Regions from separate parts of the Homo sapiens genome. Here region 1 is linked to region 2. The links come from fine-mapping of genetic effects on gene expression. Tissue or cell type: whole blood. Region 2 holds a variant in brackets; the other region holds the start of a gene. All regions are shown on one strand. Distances are between the middles of the regions.

What was found. PIP is the estimated chance that this variant, and not a neighbour inherited with it, causes the effect.
Region 1: it holds the start of SELENOH, and the variant in region 2 is fine-mapped to the expression of SELENOH in whole blood (INTERVAL, PIP 0.92).

What each region holds. Positions count from the first base shown.
Region 1 is chr11:57,736,810-57,744,911 of GRCh38, reverse strand. SELENOH (selenoprotein H) reads right to left here and starts at 3,421. Exons shown (of 4, transcript NM_170746.4): 1 at 3,195-3,421; 2 at 2,958-3,103; 3 at 2,665-2,795; 4 at 1,362-2,049. The coding sequence starts at 3,316. The coding sequence ends at 2,695. It overlaps TMX2 (thioredoxin related transmembrane protein 2), which reads right to left. Exons shown (of 8, transcript NM_015959.4): 2 at 7,244-7,304; 3 at 6,886-6,999; 4 at 6,482-6,558; 5 at 6,142-6,248; 6 at 5,873-5,938; 7 at 5,652-5,781; 8 at 3,939-4,813. The coding sequence ends at 4,667. It overlaps BTBD18 (BTB domain containing 18), which reads left to right. Exons shown (of 3, transcript NM_001145101.3): 3 at 1-1,398. The coding sequence ends at 778. It overlaps TMX2-CTNND1 (TMX2-CTNND1 readthrough (NMD candidate)), which reads right to left. Exons shown (of 21, transcript NR_037646.1): 2 at 7,244-7,304. RefSeq lists enhancers at 2,910-3,079, 3,230-3,279, 3,600-3,719.
Region 2 is chr11:57,659,647-57,667,748 of GRCh38, reverse strand. It overlaps CLP1 (cleavage factor polyribonucleotide kinase subunit 1), which reads right to left. Exons shown (of 3, transcript NM_006831.3): 2 at 7,667-8,102; 3 at 5,884-6,984. The coding sequence ends at 6,313. Among named protein-coding and RNA genes, the nearest start is that of ZDHHC5, 4.4 kb to the left of the region's middle. RefSeq lists an enhancer at 4-583 and a silencer at 4,739-4,808. The variant C/T (reference allele first, on the strand shown) is at 4,964.

The sequences.
Region 1 (8,102 bases), 77 kb before region 2:
GAAGGAACCTATGTTGGCTATTGACTGCAGAGAACCCTATGCATTTGACACAGCTCTGCTGGAGCAGCCCTGTGAGGCTGAGGAGTACCGAATCACAAGTGCTGCTGCCACCAGTGAGCTGGAGGAGATCCTGGACTTCATGCTCTGTGGCTCAGACATTGAACCACCTATAGGGTCTCTGGAGAGTCCAGGGGCTGAGGGCTGCAGAACGCCTACCTACCATCTGACAGAAACAGGAAAGAACTGGATTGAAGGGGAAGAATGGTGTCTACCAGACATGGAACTCTGGCCCAGGGAGCTCACAGAATTGGAAAAGGAACCTGCTGGTGAGAACAGAGGGCCAACTGAGCTCCTTAGCCCCCTTGTCATGCCCTCTGAGGTGAGTGAAGTGCTTTCAGTAGGAGGCCGTTGGACACCAGACCTTGAAATTACCAGCTCCCAGCCACTGGATGGTCAGGAAGACAAACTTCTCCATGTCAGCTCCCTTGATACTCCCCAGAGGTCTTATGGGGACCTCTCACCTCCCTGCTCAAACTGGGTGGAGACTGGGCTGGAAGTCTCCTTGACTACAGATGAGTTATTATACCCTTCTCCCAAGGCAGGCAAGGAGGTATCTGGTCACTCTGAACTACTAGGCTCACTTCCTGCCAGCTCTGAAGAGGAAGAGATTGATGTGGTGGACTGGACAGCAGAGGGGAGGCTGGTACCCACTACTGTTCCCTCCGTGTGGCCTGACCCTTCCTCAGAGTCAGAAACAGAGGTAGATATACTAACATAGTGGAGAGGGGAGGGCAGGTTAGGGGCCTTGGGAGGGTGGGAAATGTTAGCTAGCAAAAGGCTTACTGGCAGAGAAGCTGGCACGTGCCCTCAGCACAAGAGGCAGGTGTACCCTGGCTCTTTGTAGGTCCCTTCCTCCCTTCCCTAAGCCTCAGAAGCCAGGCAGAAGCCAAGGGTACCATAGATAGAAAATTATGAACTTGTACCATCTTATTTGTAATCTATTTTCCGGTTAGTGACAACTGAAACAAACTGTGTGCTCCCCAATTCTGGTGGGTCATAGGTAACAGCCAAGGCCAGATCTCTCAGGTCATAAGGCATCCAGTCACTGGTAATTTAGGAAAAGCTGAGAAAGAACACCCTCCTCTGTGGTGGGGTATTGTTTAAGAAAATGTTCCAGAGGAAGGTGTGAAGCAGTGTTGGGTGGAATACTAAGTGGGTGGGAGTGATGGATGCTGTCCAGCACCCAACGTGGGGCTTATTCACTGCCAGTATTAGGAAGTCTAGCTAAAACCTCTGCAGGGGCCAAGAAGATGTACTTCCATCATTACTTCCAAAAAGTAAGTTGAAAAAGATACAGTTGCTTTTTTAAAAAATAAATTATTTACTTTGCTCCCATAATTTTTACAAGTATTTCTCATGTTTTACCAGAGATCATAAAAGTTGCAGGTCAGGCCAGGTGCGGTGGCTCATCATGCCTGTAACCCCAGCACTTTGGGAGGTCAAGGCAGGCATATCACTTGAGGTCAGGAGTTTGAGACCAGCCTGGCCAACATGGTGAAACCCCGCCTTTACTAAAAATAAAAATAAAAAAATTAGCCAGGCGTGGTGGTGTGCACCTGTGATCCCAGCTACTCAGGAGACTGAGGCAGGAGTATCGCTTGAACCTGGGAGACAATGGTTGCAGTGAGCCGAGATAGCACCACTATACTCCAGCATGGGTGACAAAGTGAGACTCTGGCTCTTAAAAAAAAATTTTTTTTTAAAAGTTCCAGGTCACATGGCTATCTTGGGCTATGAAAAACACAAGGACTACCAACTCCACAAGGCTGGCTTTGTCCATCCCTTAAGATTAAGTTTTACTCTATTACTCAAATACTTTATTTCAACTTTTATTAAACCAAATCCAGTAACTTTTACAATGCCTTACTAGAGGGTTGCCTCATAACTGAACCTTCATTTCTGGCAGGGAAGAAACCATGGCTTCAGGATCATGACTGAAGTTTGGCCATGTTCCATCATTAATGTTCCAACATCACCAGGGACACAAAGCTGCAAAAATGAGAAGGGAAATAAGGTTAGAGAAAGGATCTGGGCAATCTTAAGGACTGAGGAAGACATGTTCCCCAACCCTTGAACTCACAAACCCTGAAGCTCAAGGATTGCATCCTTCCTCCAAATCTCACTCAACATAATAAGTGCAGAACAACATGCCAAAGCACTGTATGAAGCACTAGGGACAAAGACAAGGTCAAAATCCTTGTAACCAAATTTAATGGTATTGTAATGCAGTGTTAACACAGGACAGTAACAGAACACCCAAGAACCAAACAGAAGAGGGTAGGGATAAGCATAAATGAAGTAACATGAAATAAACTTCCAAATGGAAAACTTGTCCATACCCCCAGGGCAAGTCAACTACAGTCTCCCAAAGGACATAAATTCCACTTAGGGCACACTAGACAGAAAACAATATTGTGTCTTTTTTTTGTTTTTTGTTTTCAAATAGGGTCTCCCTGTGTTGGCCATCCACTCCTGCCTCGACCTCCCAGAGTGCTGGGATTGCAGGCGTGAGCTACCCACGCCAGGTGGGTACTTGTAGCCACACCAAGATCAATGCCTTCTCTTCCTCAACAGCGGTCGCGCCCCCCACTTCCCATTTCAAACCTCAGCATGAGGGCTTCTACCCAAATCTCCCTACGACAGGTACTTCTTCAACTCTTCCACCACCTCTTGAGGCTCAGGGAATTTGAGTTTGCGTGGGGGCCCCTTCTTAATCCCAGTCCAGAGCTCCGCACCTGAAAGGCCAGAATGAAGCGAAGTTACAATACTTCGGAACCCACGAGCACGTCTCTGAAGTCATGAGACTGCCGTGGTTTCTAAGAATAGCGCTTCCTGTCTTCGGAACCCACGTCCCTTTCACCCACGTCCCTCTCCCCCACATCCAGGTCCCCACTTACTGCTGCCGTCCGGGCGCAGCAGCGTCACCTCGAAGCTGCCCCTCCGGGGCTTCGTCGGGTTCACCTTTACTGGAAGCTCTGGGGCCTCCAGGCGCAGCGCCTGGCTCAGGGCCGCGGCGTTGCGCCCATAGACGCGTCAGCTAGTGCTAGGGAGAGACGGAGAGGTTAGAAACCGGGGCCCCTGGCCCCCCCCGGCGCCACTGTTCCCTCTCTCCCGTTACTCTCCAGGCCCCTCACCAATGCTCGATAACAACGGTCGCCTCCTCCATTCCCTCCCCGCCGTTCGCCAGCTTCTCTCGCTTCTCGGCTACGGCGACCACCGCGGCCTCAGCCTTACGCTTCCTCCCGCGGGGAGCCATGGCGCCTAGAGCCCGGCCGAGAATGCAGCGGGACTGGTGGGTGGGGGGCGGAGACGCGACCACTGAGCGGAAACTGGGCAACGAAGAGCGCAGCCCGGAAGCTCTGCTCCTACAGCGGAAACCTCTCTCAAAGGAAGGGAAAGCTTGGCCCGCAGCACCCACGTGGCCTGGAGGCGGACCTTGGGGCACAACCACTTTGCAAGCAGGGAGCGGGAAGGTGCGGGAAGCGCCTGACGGAACCACCCATCGCTTCGGGTGGAGGGGACAGGGGACGCTGGGATGGTGAACACAGCAGGAAGGGGCGGAGACTAGGTCCGACTGCTAGCCTCGCTTCGCGCAATCTTTTCTGTACCTTTGCATGGCGCTAAATGTTGTGTGCCACCATCTGCCGCCAAACTCTCCTCCCTGGCAACCGCAGGCCAATCCCAGAGTAAACCCACCACCTAACAACATGTGGCCGCTATTCTAGATTTATGGAAACTAGACTTCTCCAACTCTTGCCAGTCCTGGGGATCAATGCCCGGCATTTGGTGAAACCAAATAGGATGGCCTTTGCCCTTAAGATGGGCAATTCCTCTGCAGTTGTCAGGCTTTTCTAATACAGAAACACACAAACGCGCAATCAAAAGGAAATCCCAATCTTTTTATTACGGAAAGCCATCAACTGGGTGTGGGGAGTATGTCAGAGGGTTAGTGAAAGTCCAGGGGATTTCTCCTCCAAGTCCTACCACACAAAGGAAAGTCTCAAGCCTCTATTCACCCCTTCTCAATCCCCACAAAATAGGGGGTTGTTCAATATTGTCTTCAATGATAAAAACTTTGTGGTTAAAGGTTTCTCCTTAGGACTAGCGACAAAGTTAGGCTTATACTTTTAATGAAGACCATAAACGAAGCCAGAAGGGCTTAAGGAAGCAAGAGTCCTTGGGGGAAAATTCTTAGCGTTCTATACCCCAGCATCTTACCTTAGGGTTAAATCTAGGTCTAACCAAGCTGTGCAGGTCAACTAAGAAGGAATGATGAAACCACAGAGTTTCATGGAGAAACCATGGAGATGTCTGAATAGCTGATAAGCAGTTAACACACTGACCCAAGCTTGGAGGGAAACCATTTCCCCCTCCGTCCTATGAGATCTCTTTCTTGCTCCAGTGAAACAGTTGGCCACAGCATGGCAGGCCTTCCTGTAGGGTGCCTGACAATTCCCTAGATGCCTCTTTAAAATCAGAAGCTGCATGCTGCCCCACCCAGTCACAGCCAAAGGGAAAACATAAATAAAAGGCTGCAGCCTCAGGCTTGTGGTTATGGAAAGAGCCTGGAATTGACAGGAGAGGAAGCACTGCCAAAGTGAGGATCTTATTTATCCTTCTTGTTTTCCCCATCTGACACTGTGGTGGGGGTTGAAGCCACAGGCTGCTCCTCAGGGATATTGTCTCCAGCCTTTGATAGTTTCTTGGCCCGCTGGTATAGCTCATTTAAGTTAAATTCTCGGATCACATTCTCCTGCACAAAAGAGATGCACACGTCAGGATCTGGGTTGGAAGGGAGAGTAAAGAGCCTGGGAAGTAAGAGGTATTTTACACAAAGTCTGGGAAAGGAAGGAGTAAGCAAAGGACAAAAATCTTCCCTAACCTTCCTCTTTTTTAGGTACCCAGAAAAGTCAACTAATAGTTAAATACCCATTATGTGCCAATCACCGTGCCAAGAATTATACCTAAATTATTTAATGTAATCTGCAAAACAACCCTGTAAGCCAGGGGTTATTACCTCCAATTAACTGACAGGGAACCTAACACCTACAGACAATAGGTGCAGTGGCCTTCGAGACAGAATCTTTTTTTTTTTTTCCTGATGGAGTCTCTTGTTGCCCAGGCTGGACCGCAATGGTGCAATCTCAGCTCACTGCAACCTCCACCTCCCGGGTTCAAGCGATTCTCCTGCCTCAGCCTCCCAAATAGCTGGCATTATAGGCATGCGCCACCACACTCGGCTATTTTTGTATTTTTAGTAGACACGGGGTTTCTCCATGTTGGTCAGGCTGGTCTCAAACTCCTGACCTCAGGTGATCTGCCAGCCTCGGCCTCCCAAAGTGCTGGGATTACAGGCGTGAGCCACCGTGCCTGGCCTGAGACCAAATCTTAACTAATGATTGTTACCCAGTACTAGCAGGTCTGCACATAATATATATTTGCTAAATGAATTAAAACATGAGGTCTAGTAACTAGTCCACACCCTCAAAGCTAATGGGCAAGTGGCAGAGCTGTGAATCAAACCCGGGTAGGGCTTGAAAGCCCACCTACTGTTCTGCACCCTTCATGCACCTGCCCTTCCTTTCAGGTACCTCAGAGAAGGTCCATGAGACAGCCCGTCCTTTCTTGTCAATCTGTGGCCGCCGCATTGCCTCCTTGCCACCTTGGAACAGGATCAGGGTAGGGAGTTGCTTGGTGAGGGGTGATGTGCTCACTTTGTACCTGCAGGGCCCAGAAAGTTCTCTAAATGTCCCTGTATGTATCACTCAAAGTGATTTCCCTGCTCAGACCCTCTGCCCAGGTCTTTACATACCGCGTACTAACATCAGTATAGCGTCCAACATCCACCTTCCCAAAATTTAGCCCTGTACAGTTGTATCTGAAAAGAATATATTATTTAATATGCTGAAAAAAAATAATGGATCAAGGAAAGTGGAAGTATAGATATTTAAGAGGGGAGAGGGAGATGCCTTTGGTTACCATGTGTGAAAATCAAGGCCAAAAGAAAAAGAAAAGCCAAAAACAGTGAGAGGGAAGGCACAGCATCTCCATTTCCACCATCCCTCCCTTTGCACTACTCACTTAAGGGAGAGGTCAGCATAGATAGGGGCAAATGATTGGCAGTCATTAGACCAATTGGCAAAGAACTCCACAATCCAAGTGACCCTCTTGTCCCGTTCTAGTTCCTCCTGCCAAATACAGGGAAGAAAAGTCAGCTGGATCCACATAGCCTCCTGGGAAGGTTCAGACTTTAGCATCTAATTCCTCATCCTGGTGTTCCCTCTCCCCCGGCTCTCATAATGAACCACAGTGCCCGTGACATCCATTTTGAAGCACTGTTGTTCCTCCTAGTGAATGGAGAGCACAACTACAAAATCACCCACAAGGGACCCAAGAAACAGAAAGGGGAAAGAGCACTCACATCAATGGTTTTATCATTGAAGTACTTGATATACTCAGGGCCCATATATAGGGGGGGTTTGCACGTCATCAGGAACACTAAATACAGAAAGAAGATGTCGAAGGAAACATAAAAAGCCTTACACAGGGAATTTACTTCCAAACCAACCCAAGGATTTCAGCCCCCAAATAATACACACTTGTGGATATATGTAGACCACCAACACATTCCCTACCTCTACAATAACAGTCTCTGTAAACTGTTATCATCTGAGCTACATATATAATTCATTAGGTATGAGATATGGAAGAAGGGTATGGAGAAACATGTTTGGGATTGCAACTGTTGGGACTGTGGTTTCCACAATCAAGTCTATCAACACAGTCTTACAAAAAAAAAAAAAGAAAGAAAGGCAGTCTCCTCACCTATGCAGAGTGTGATGTAAAGTAGGCCCATGCGAATATCCAAGCGGAAGAAAAGAATTGTGTTGGCCACTTTACTAAACATGAAAATGTTGCCTATATGTTGCTCCACAGTGACTGAAACACAGAGATGTCACAGGTCAGGCTGGGCTGTGCACTCCTATATCCCATTCTTTGTCCCTCTTCATGGGGCACTTTGAAATAGGAGACAGGGAGGGGATAGAAGTCCAAGTTCAAATTCAGCCTTGGAATTAAACGTAGGACAAATTTACCAAATGATTGCCACTCTCTTAACATGAAGCAAAGCACCTCCAAAGGGCATTAGATCTAACCTTGAGTCTGAGAAGTGAACTAAACTTACTGGATCTGCGGTTCTTCATCATCACAATGGCACTGAGAAACATCAGGATCTCCACTTCTCTCTGGAACAGAATCGAAGTATTATAACAGGAATGCAGTGACTAGAGCTAACTTAGGTGGGAAAGGGAACTAAATATGTAATAAAAACCAATAGCGATCCAAACTGGGAATGGGAACAATAAAGAACTGCAGTTAGGTAAGGTGTACGGGGATAAACATCAGTCAGAAGACCTGGATTCAGGTTCTACTCCTGCCACAAACTTGCTGGTGCTTTTCTTTTTGAGACAGAGTTTCACTCTTGTTGCCCAGGCTAGAGTGCAATGGCGCGATCTCGGCTCACTGCAACCTCCGCCTCCCAGGTAGCTGGGATTGCAGACATGCGCCACCACACCCGGCTAATTTTTTTATTTTTAGTAGAGACAGGGTTTCACCATGTTGGCCAGGCTGGTCTCAAACTCCTGACCTCAGGTGATCCACCAAAGTGCTGAGATTACAGGCACGAGCCACCGCGCCAGGCCTGCGGTGCTTTTCAACAAAGCACTTAATCCCTTAGCTTTGGTTTCCTCAACTGAACAGTATCTATTTCAAAATGCTACTGGGGGATTAAATGAGATAACAGATTAAAAAGAGTTGTATAAAGCATGATATGGTATAAAATCGTAAGATTATTAATATCAACTCAATGTGACGCTGGTAGAATAAAACTTTTCCAGGTAAGTTTTCTTGATAATAGCCCATTAATATAATATCTAGCTATTCCACATGTTTAATTTTTTTTTTTTTTTTGAGACAGTCTTGCTCCATCGCCCAGGCTAGAGTGCAATGGTGTGATCTCAGCTCACTGAAACCTCTGCCACCTG
Region 2 (8,102 bases):
AGGCCGTGGGGTTGCGGGGACAACTAAGAGACAAGGATTGGCCTAATGCACAGGAGTCAGGAATGAGGAAATGGCCAGGCGAGTCTTCCCTTCTCCTGCGTCCTGTTGTATTCCCACTGAATCCAAGCAAAAACCCCCGGAAATAAGAAAAGAATTATGTGTGTGTACTAGAAGTACTCAAAAGCAAGCAGCTACCTTCTCGAATTCAGCAACCCCTCTCCTACTGAGGTGGTACAGTCCAGACAGGCTTCCAGCGCAGCCAATTACCGACGACTATCGCCGCTTCCTGCTTCAGCCCCTTCGCGGCGGATTGGCCAACCATTTGGCGACTAGGCCTCCCTCTTCTCCTTCCCATCTCCTTTTTTTTTTTTTTTTTTTTTTTTGATGGCAAAAACTTTATTTAAAACAATCTTGCTGGAGAAATCTTCAGTCCGGCGAGGTCGCTGGTCCGGGCAGAATCCAGGGCGATGGAATGGTCTGGGCTGTGTCTCCCACATGAAGGGGACGCCCGGACTTGAAGAGCCAATGTAGGGCGAGGCTCCTGCCAAGGGCCGGGGAGGGAGATGAAGAAGAGCAGGCGCCAGCCTTGGAGCCGTAGCGCTAACCGTGAGAGGGAAGCCTAAGGAGCGCGCGACCTGAGGCGGTGGCAGCACCCTCCCGCCCCCGGAGTGCGAGCCGGGAAGTGAACTCCCTGAATTCCATTAGTTTCCCACTGTCACACGTGGGATGGGCGCCCGCATCCCTCACCTCACCCAATCCTAGAATACAAAGCTAAAAGCAAAAGGTTCTCTAGAATAGCTACTGTCCCTGGCGAGCTAACTCTGCATAGGTCATAGTGCTACGCTTTGCCCTGATTAGCCCAAGACAGCTGTGAACCCAATAGCAATGCCCCATGTTCTCTCCCCATTCGGCTCGAGGCTATTTCTTTTTTCGAAAGCAACTCTAGCTATTACATAATGGTCCCTCAAAAAGGTGTTTCACAAGCCACTTCCCTGAAGCCGAGGCCCCTCACCTGTAAAATCCTGAGGACTGTCCTCGGGTTTGGTCTCAAATGTTGCTGGCTTTACTGTGGTTCTGACACTAGCATTAGGCAGTAAGGTAAAAGAGAACTACCTTCTGTTTTCTGGAATCTAGTTCCTTCTCTGACATGGCATATATTATAAGTTCTAGTTTATTCTTGTTAACAGCGTCAATCCAGCATTTATTGCAACACACTTGAGAGTTCTTTATAACGACTTTATATTTTTAAAACAGACCTGGCCTGGCGTGGTGGTTCACACCTGTAATCCCAGCACTTTGGGAGGCCAAGGCAGGCGGATCACGAGGTCAGGTGCTCAAGACCAGCCTGGCCAACATAGTGAAACTCCCTCTACTAAAAATACAAAAATTAGTCGGGCATGGTCGGGGGAGCCTGTAATCCCAGCTACTCGGGAGGCTGAGGCAGGAGAATTGCTTCAACCCGGGAGGCAGAGGTTGCCGTGAGCCGAGACCACACAACTTCACTCCAGCCTGGGCAACAGAGCAAGACTCCGTCTCAAAACAAAACAAAAACCTCTTTAGACCATATGAAAGGTAAATTATTGAAGATACAATATTGATATTTTATTTTTTACTTTTTGAGAGGGAGTCTCACACTGTCACCCAGGCTGGAGTGCAGTGGCGCGATCTCAGCTCATGGCAACCTCCTCCCGGGTTCAAGCAATTCTCATGCCTCAGCCTCCTGAGTAGCTGGGATCACAGGCATGTGCCACCACACCTGGCTAATATTTGTATTTTTAGTAGAGATGGGGTTTCACCATGATGGCCACATTGGTCTGGAACTCCTGACCTCAAATGATCCTCCCACCTCGGCCTCCCAAAGTGCTGAGATTACCGGTGTGAGCCACAGTGCCCGGCCTGATATTGGCATTTTCTACCTGTAAGCCATGTTTCTTTAAGATGAAGTCAGCTTTCATTTTTCTGTTGCAATATTTTTCTTGGATTTTTAGACTTCCTGATTTCCTCCACAAATTAGGCATTTTTATTTTCCTTTCAGCTGTCTAAGAACTTGTAAATAGTGGTGTCTCTTGGCTAGACAGTGCTAAATGGAAAAAAAAAATCAGTCTTCCACCATCCAACCAAACTAAACTCCCCTGGGATACTAACTTGGATTGCCAAGCTTTGTTAGGTGGATGAGCACTAACAGAGGTATAATCACTATCCCAAAGTTGAAAGACAGAGATTCCACTTGTCCAGTTTTCCTTGGGATCACTCAAGATATTTCTTGGAAAGAACGTTTAATAGAACATATGGTTTAAAGTGCCAGCTACTTCTGAAAAGTATCCAGAGTAAAATCTAGGCTAAAACAGTATGATATCCAGACCACCCAAACTTTAAATTACTTTAATATGTTAATGGCTTCTCTCATCTGCGCATCTTTGTTCATCTTGCTCACCACACTCTTCGGCTGCCTGGACTTAGACCCTCAGTAGCATGGGCACCTAAGCACACAGAAAGCTAGAACATGCATTTCCCAATTTTTGTGTTTTTAGGGTTTCACCATGTTGGCCAGGGTAGTCTCCAACTGCTGAGCTCAAGTGATCTGCCTGCCTCGACCTCCCAAAGTGCTGGGATTACAGGTCTGAGCCACTGCTCCTGGTCAACCTCTTTGTGTTTAAATACTGCTCTTTCCTCCTGTCCTTGTGAAATGTCTCTGTATGTGTTAAAGGGTAGTTCTTCCCTTTGTGCTGTGGATCCTATCTCCTTCGCTCCTGCATTTTTTCTGGTGCTGGGGGATGGAGTCTTGCTCTGTTACCCAGGCTGGAGTGCAGTGACGCGATCTCAGCTCACTGCAACCTCCGCCACCCATGGACAATTAATAGCTCATATTTAACACTGCCAAAAACCTCGAGTTTCCCTTGTCCCTCAGGGGGACAACTCCCTGAGTTTTCCCAATCTCATGTCTAACCTAGTGTGTCTTGTTAAAAAAAATCCAGGATGCATCCTTGATTCCATCGTTTTCCTCACCACTCCGTTATGAAGTCCTGCCTTCAGAATATCCTCTCACCAGCTCTACCTCTGCTGCCCTAGTATTTCATCCCCCACCATTTCTCACATTTGCACTTTTACAAAACTCTCCTAATTACTGTCCTTGCTTTTACACTTGCCCTATAACCCACTCTCCACAAAGCAGTGATCTTTTCAAAATGTAAAGTAATCAGCCAGGCTAATCCCAGCACTTTGGGAGTCCGAGGCGGATGGATCACTTGAGGTCAGGAGTTCGAGACCAGCCTGGCCAACATGGCAAAACCCCATCTCTACTAAAAATACAAAAATTCGCCAGGCATGGTGGTGCATGCTACTCAGCTACTCAGGAGGCTGAGGCAGGAGAATAACTTGAACCCAGGAGGCAGAGGTTGCAGTGCACCGAGGTCATGCCACAGCACTCTAGCCTGGGCAACATAGCAAAACTCAGAAGGAGGGAAGGAAAGGGGGAGGGAAGGGGAGGAGAGAGGAGAGGAGGTGAGGGAAGGAAAGGAAAGGAAGGAATAGGAAGGAAGGGGAAGGAATGAAAAAGAGAAGAAAAAAGAGAGAAGAAAAAGAGAGCAGGAAGGAGGGAGAGAGGAAAGAGGAAAGGAAAGGAAAGGAAAAGAAAGGAAAGGAAGAAAGAAAGAGGGAAGGGAGGGAGGAGATCAGCCGGGCGTGCTGGCTTACGCCTGTAATCCCACACTTTGGGAGGCCTAGGCGGGCGGATCACCTGAAGTCGGGAGTCGGAGACAAACCTGACCAACACGGAGAAACCCCATCTATACTAAAAACACAAAATTAGCCGGGCATGGTGGCGCATGCCTGTAATCCCAGCTACTCGGGAGGCTGAGGCAGGAGACTCGCTTGAACCTGGGAGGTGGAGGTTGCACTGAGCCAGATTGCGCCATTGCACTCCAGCCTGGGCAACAAGAATGAAACTCTGTCCCCCCCCAAAAAAAAAAAGATCAAATAATTACTCTACTTAACTACCCCTCCCCTCTGGTTCCCATTGCTCTTAAGAGTAAAATCCATTCTTAAACCAGGTGCTGTGGCATGAGCCTGTAGTCCCAGCTACTCAGGAGACTAAGGTGGGCGGATCACTTAAGCCCAGAAGTTCAAAGCCAGCTTGGGCAACATAGTGAGACACGCCCCATCTCTTTTTTTTTTTTTTTTTTTTTGAGTCAGAGTTTCGCTCTTATTGCCTAGGCTGGAGTGCAGTGGCGTGATCTTGGCTCACGGCAACCTCCACCTCCCGGGTTCAAGCAATTCTCTTGCCTCAACCTCCCAAGTAACTGGGATTACAAGCATGTGCCACCACGCTCAACTAAATTTTTTTTGCATTTTTAGTAGAGATGGGGTTTCACCATGTTGGTCAGGCTGGTCTCGAACTCCTGACCCCAAGTGATCCAGCCACCTCAGCCTCCCAAAGTGCTGGGATTACAGGCATGAGCCACCACGCCCGGCTGAGATCCCTATCTCTTAAAAAGAAATAAAAAATCCTTTTCTTTTTTTGAGACAGAGTGTCCTTCTGTCACCTAGACTGGAATGCAGTGATGCAATCTCGGCTTTCTGCACCTCCACCTCTTGGGTTCAAGGGATTCTCAGACTCCTGAGTGGCTGGGGTTAAAGGCATGGCCACCACCCATGGCACCTGGGCCAAAAAATCCATTCTTCACCGTGGTTTACAAAAGCCCTACATTATCTGGTCTTTGCTGCCCCCTCCAGCCTCATCTTGTACAGTCTTTCTTGGTTCACTAAGCTTCAACCACACTGGCTTTTCTCTTCACCAAACTCATCAAGCTTGTTCCTTTATTAGGGTTTTGCAGTTTTTTCTCACCAGGAAGGTTTTGCCCCAGACTTCACACAGCCATTCAAGTCTTAGCCCAAAATGTATGCTCAGGAAGGGCCTTTCCTGACCACCCAATCTAAAGTAGCCTCCAGTCACTCTGTCTCATAT[C/T]CCCCAAATTTAAGTCTCTGCATAGCACTTGCCTTTTTAAATTTGTTTATTCTATAATGTAAGCTCCATAAAACTTTTGTCTGTCTTGTTCCCCATCTACAGTGGCTCCTGACAAACAGTCAGTCCTCAGTAAACATTTATGAAAAGAAGGAATGGATGAATGGCATCAGATACTTAAGTAATCCAAGTGCAAACCAGGGACACCAAACAGTCATTTGCAAGAGATCAAAAAGAATGGGCTTTCCCAGTTTCTTACCACCTGAAAGCTTAAGTTACACTTTGACTTAGGGCCTAGTTCCAATCAAATAGACAAGGATAGCTGTACTGGAAGGAAAATGAGCTATCTCTGGAAAATGATTAGATATGAAATCTCATTCCAAGATTATCACCAGCCTCTAACTCCCCACAGTAAATCCAGCACTGACAGCAGATTTACCATCTACTTACCTAAGCGCAGAGGAAAGGTGAACTATCATAAGAACTCACAGCCGGGCACAGTGTCTCACACCTGTAATCCCAGCATTTTGGGAGGCCGAGGCAGGCAGATCATGAGGTCAGGAGTTTGAGACCAGCCTGGCCAACATAGTGAAACCCTGTCCCTACTAAAAGAAATACAAAAAATTAGCTGGGCGTGGTGGCGGGCACCTGTAACCCCAGCTATTTGGGAGGCTGAGGCAGGAGAATCACTTGAACCTGGGAGGCAGAGGTTGCAGTGAGCCAAGATCACGCCACTGCACTCCAGCCCAGGTGACAGTGTGAGACTCTTACAAAAACAACCACCACCACCACCAAAAAAAAAAACCTGACGTGGCTCACAGGTAGGTTTCTTGGTTTTCCCCTCCTCCAAGCATTTTAGCAATAAATCATTCCAATTATGTTTCTATAACGCTTAGGGGAAAAAAATAAATTATACCAACTTCTATGATATGGCAAAAATATTTATTAAAATGATTTTTTTTAAGTTTGAACTTTATTGGAAGGAGTCCCTCTAATTCACACTTTCATCCTAGATAAATGGGTAAGAACCACATATGGAATATAAAGCATTGATTTTTTAAAAACCACATAGTAGCACAGTGAAAGAAATGCAATTCTCCAGGGTCTTAGAGAATTCAAAGTGGCATCTTAGGTGGTCTAAGAAACCAATTACAGTCTCATGGTTTTCCTTTTGGTTCAAGATTAGAAGAGTCAGGTTACCACTACCTGTTTTTAGAGGTAGAATATGAACTTTCTACTAGTCCACAGTTTACTGGTCAGGTGGCCCCAACAGTCTTTTATCTCAGCCCATCTGCCTCTAGGGGTGGCCAGATGATCTCTATGTCCCAGGCAGCAAGGCTTCCTGCTGATCTCTACTTCAGATCCATGAACCGGATATCCATGATGAGAAGGAAGTTCTTAGGCAGTGGGCGAGGGGCTGGAGACAGAACAGTAAACACCTGATGCTCCAGGTCCACACTGGTCACCACAATGAAGCCAGCTACACTTGTCTCGGACAGGTTCTCCTCTGTACCCTCGGCAGTGCTAACACTCAGTAGGTGGTGCACCATATCTCGCCCAGGAGTGACAGGTACTAGCTTGAGCTGATTATCCTCTTGAGACATGCCCAAAGGTAAACAGGAGTCTGGGATGGTGGGTGCCCCAACTTTGTAGATTTTCACATCTGAAAATTTGACATTGAAGGCATGGGGATAGAAACAGCCTCGGAATCCATAAAAATACTCACGGATACGCTCATCCCTACATTCCCGCCGGAAGTCCTTGGAGCGCTCCACCACACCCCCAGATTTAGGGAGCAGCACAGTGCGTACAAAGTGGGGGAGGTCCCGTTTCAGTTCATTGTACAGTCGTTCTTGATCCAGAACAACAACGACATCCACCTCAAAAGCTGAGGCTGCATGCACCAGAGCCTGGTAACCAGAGCCCTTGACCCAGCCACAGGTGTTAATGACACAGCCACTCACAGATGCCCTTCGGTTCACCTCACACCTTTGGTTGAACACATCTGCTAAACGAGATGTAATCTGCAAAAGAGAGGATCAAGGTAAGAACAAAAACACCCAGACAAACCCATGGCTACTTTGTTCCTCTTTAGAATAAGTGCTATTAGATATAAGAAAAATGATTTTTTTTTTGAAATGGAGTCTCACTCTGTTGCCCAGGATGGAGTGCAGTGGCACGATCTCAGCTCACTGCAACCTCCACCTCCCGCGTTCAAGTGATTCTCCTGCCTCAGTCTCTGAACAGCTGGGATTACAGGCACCAGCCACCACGCCCAGCTACTTTTTGTATTTTTAGTAGAGACAAGGTTTCACCATGTTGGCCAGGCTGCTCTCCAACTCCTGACCTCAGGTGATCCACCCGTCTCAGCCTCCCAAGTTGTGGGATTACAGGCATGAGCCACTGTACCCAGCCTGAAAAAATGACATTTTTAATGGCTGTAGTTTTGATACCATAACATGGATTTAATTTTTATGTTGCTGCTTCTGCCTCCTGTTTTATGCCCTAAGTGAAAATCTAACAAATTACTAAGAATAGATCCACAGAAATGTTTAACAATCTGAGACTGACATATTTGGAATTGCCTTTCTAAAGTAATGCAGCAGAAATACCAGCTGAGAAAATGCAGTGTTAACTAGTAAACTTCTCCAGTTTCCTACCCTGATAGCAGCCCTTCCCTCCACCCCACCTTTCTCTGGCTCTGACCTTATTATAAAGCTTGATGTTAGTGCCAGGAGTGGTGGAACCAAAATGATACACCAGAGGGGCCTGGATAGAGAAACCCTCTTCGACATCTGCAGGCCGCTCGATGTAGAGGGCCCCCATGGTACCAGGGATGGACACAGAACCCTGGCCCACATCCAGCTCCACATAAGTGGGACGGCGGCCCAAACGCACTGCGTAGTTGAGCAGAAGGCGACACACTGTAGACTTGCCCACATCAGTGGGGCCCACTACCATCACTCGGGGACCTCGCTCTTCTTCCTTTTCCGCTTGCCTCCGCATCTGTTCCAAGGCTGTGTGAGTGTTGAGGTAAAGCAACATAGGAGTGTCCTTGGAGACATAAGCCACCTCAGTGCGGCCGCTCAGTTGCACAGAACAGCCATGCCAAGTGAAAACAGCCACCTTGGCACCAGCATCA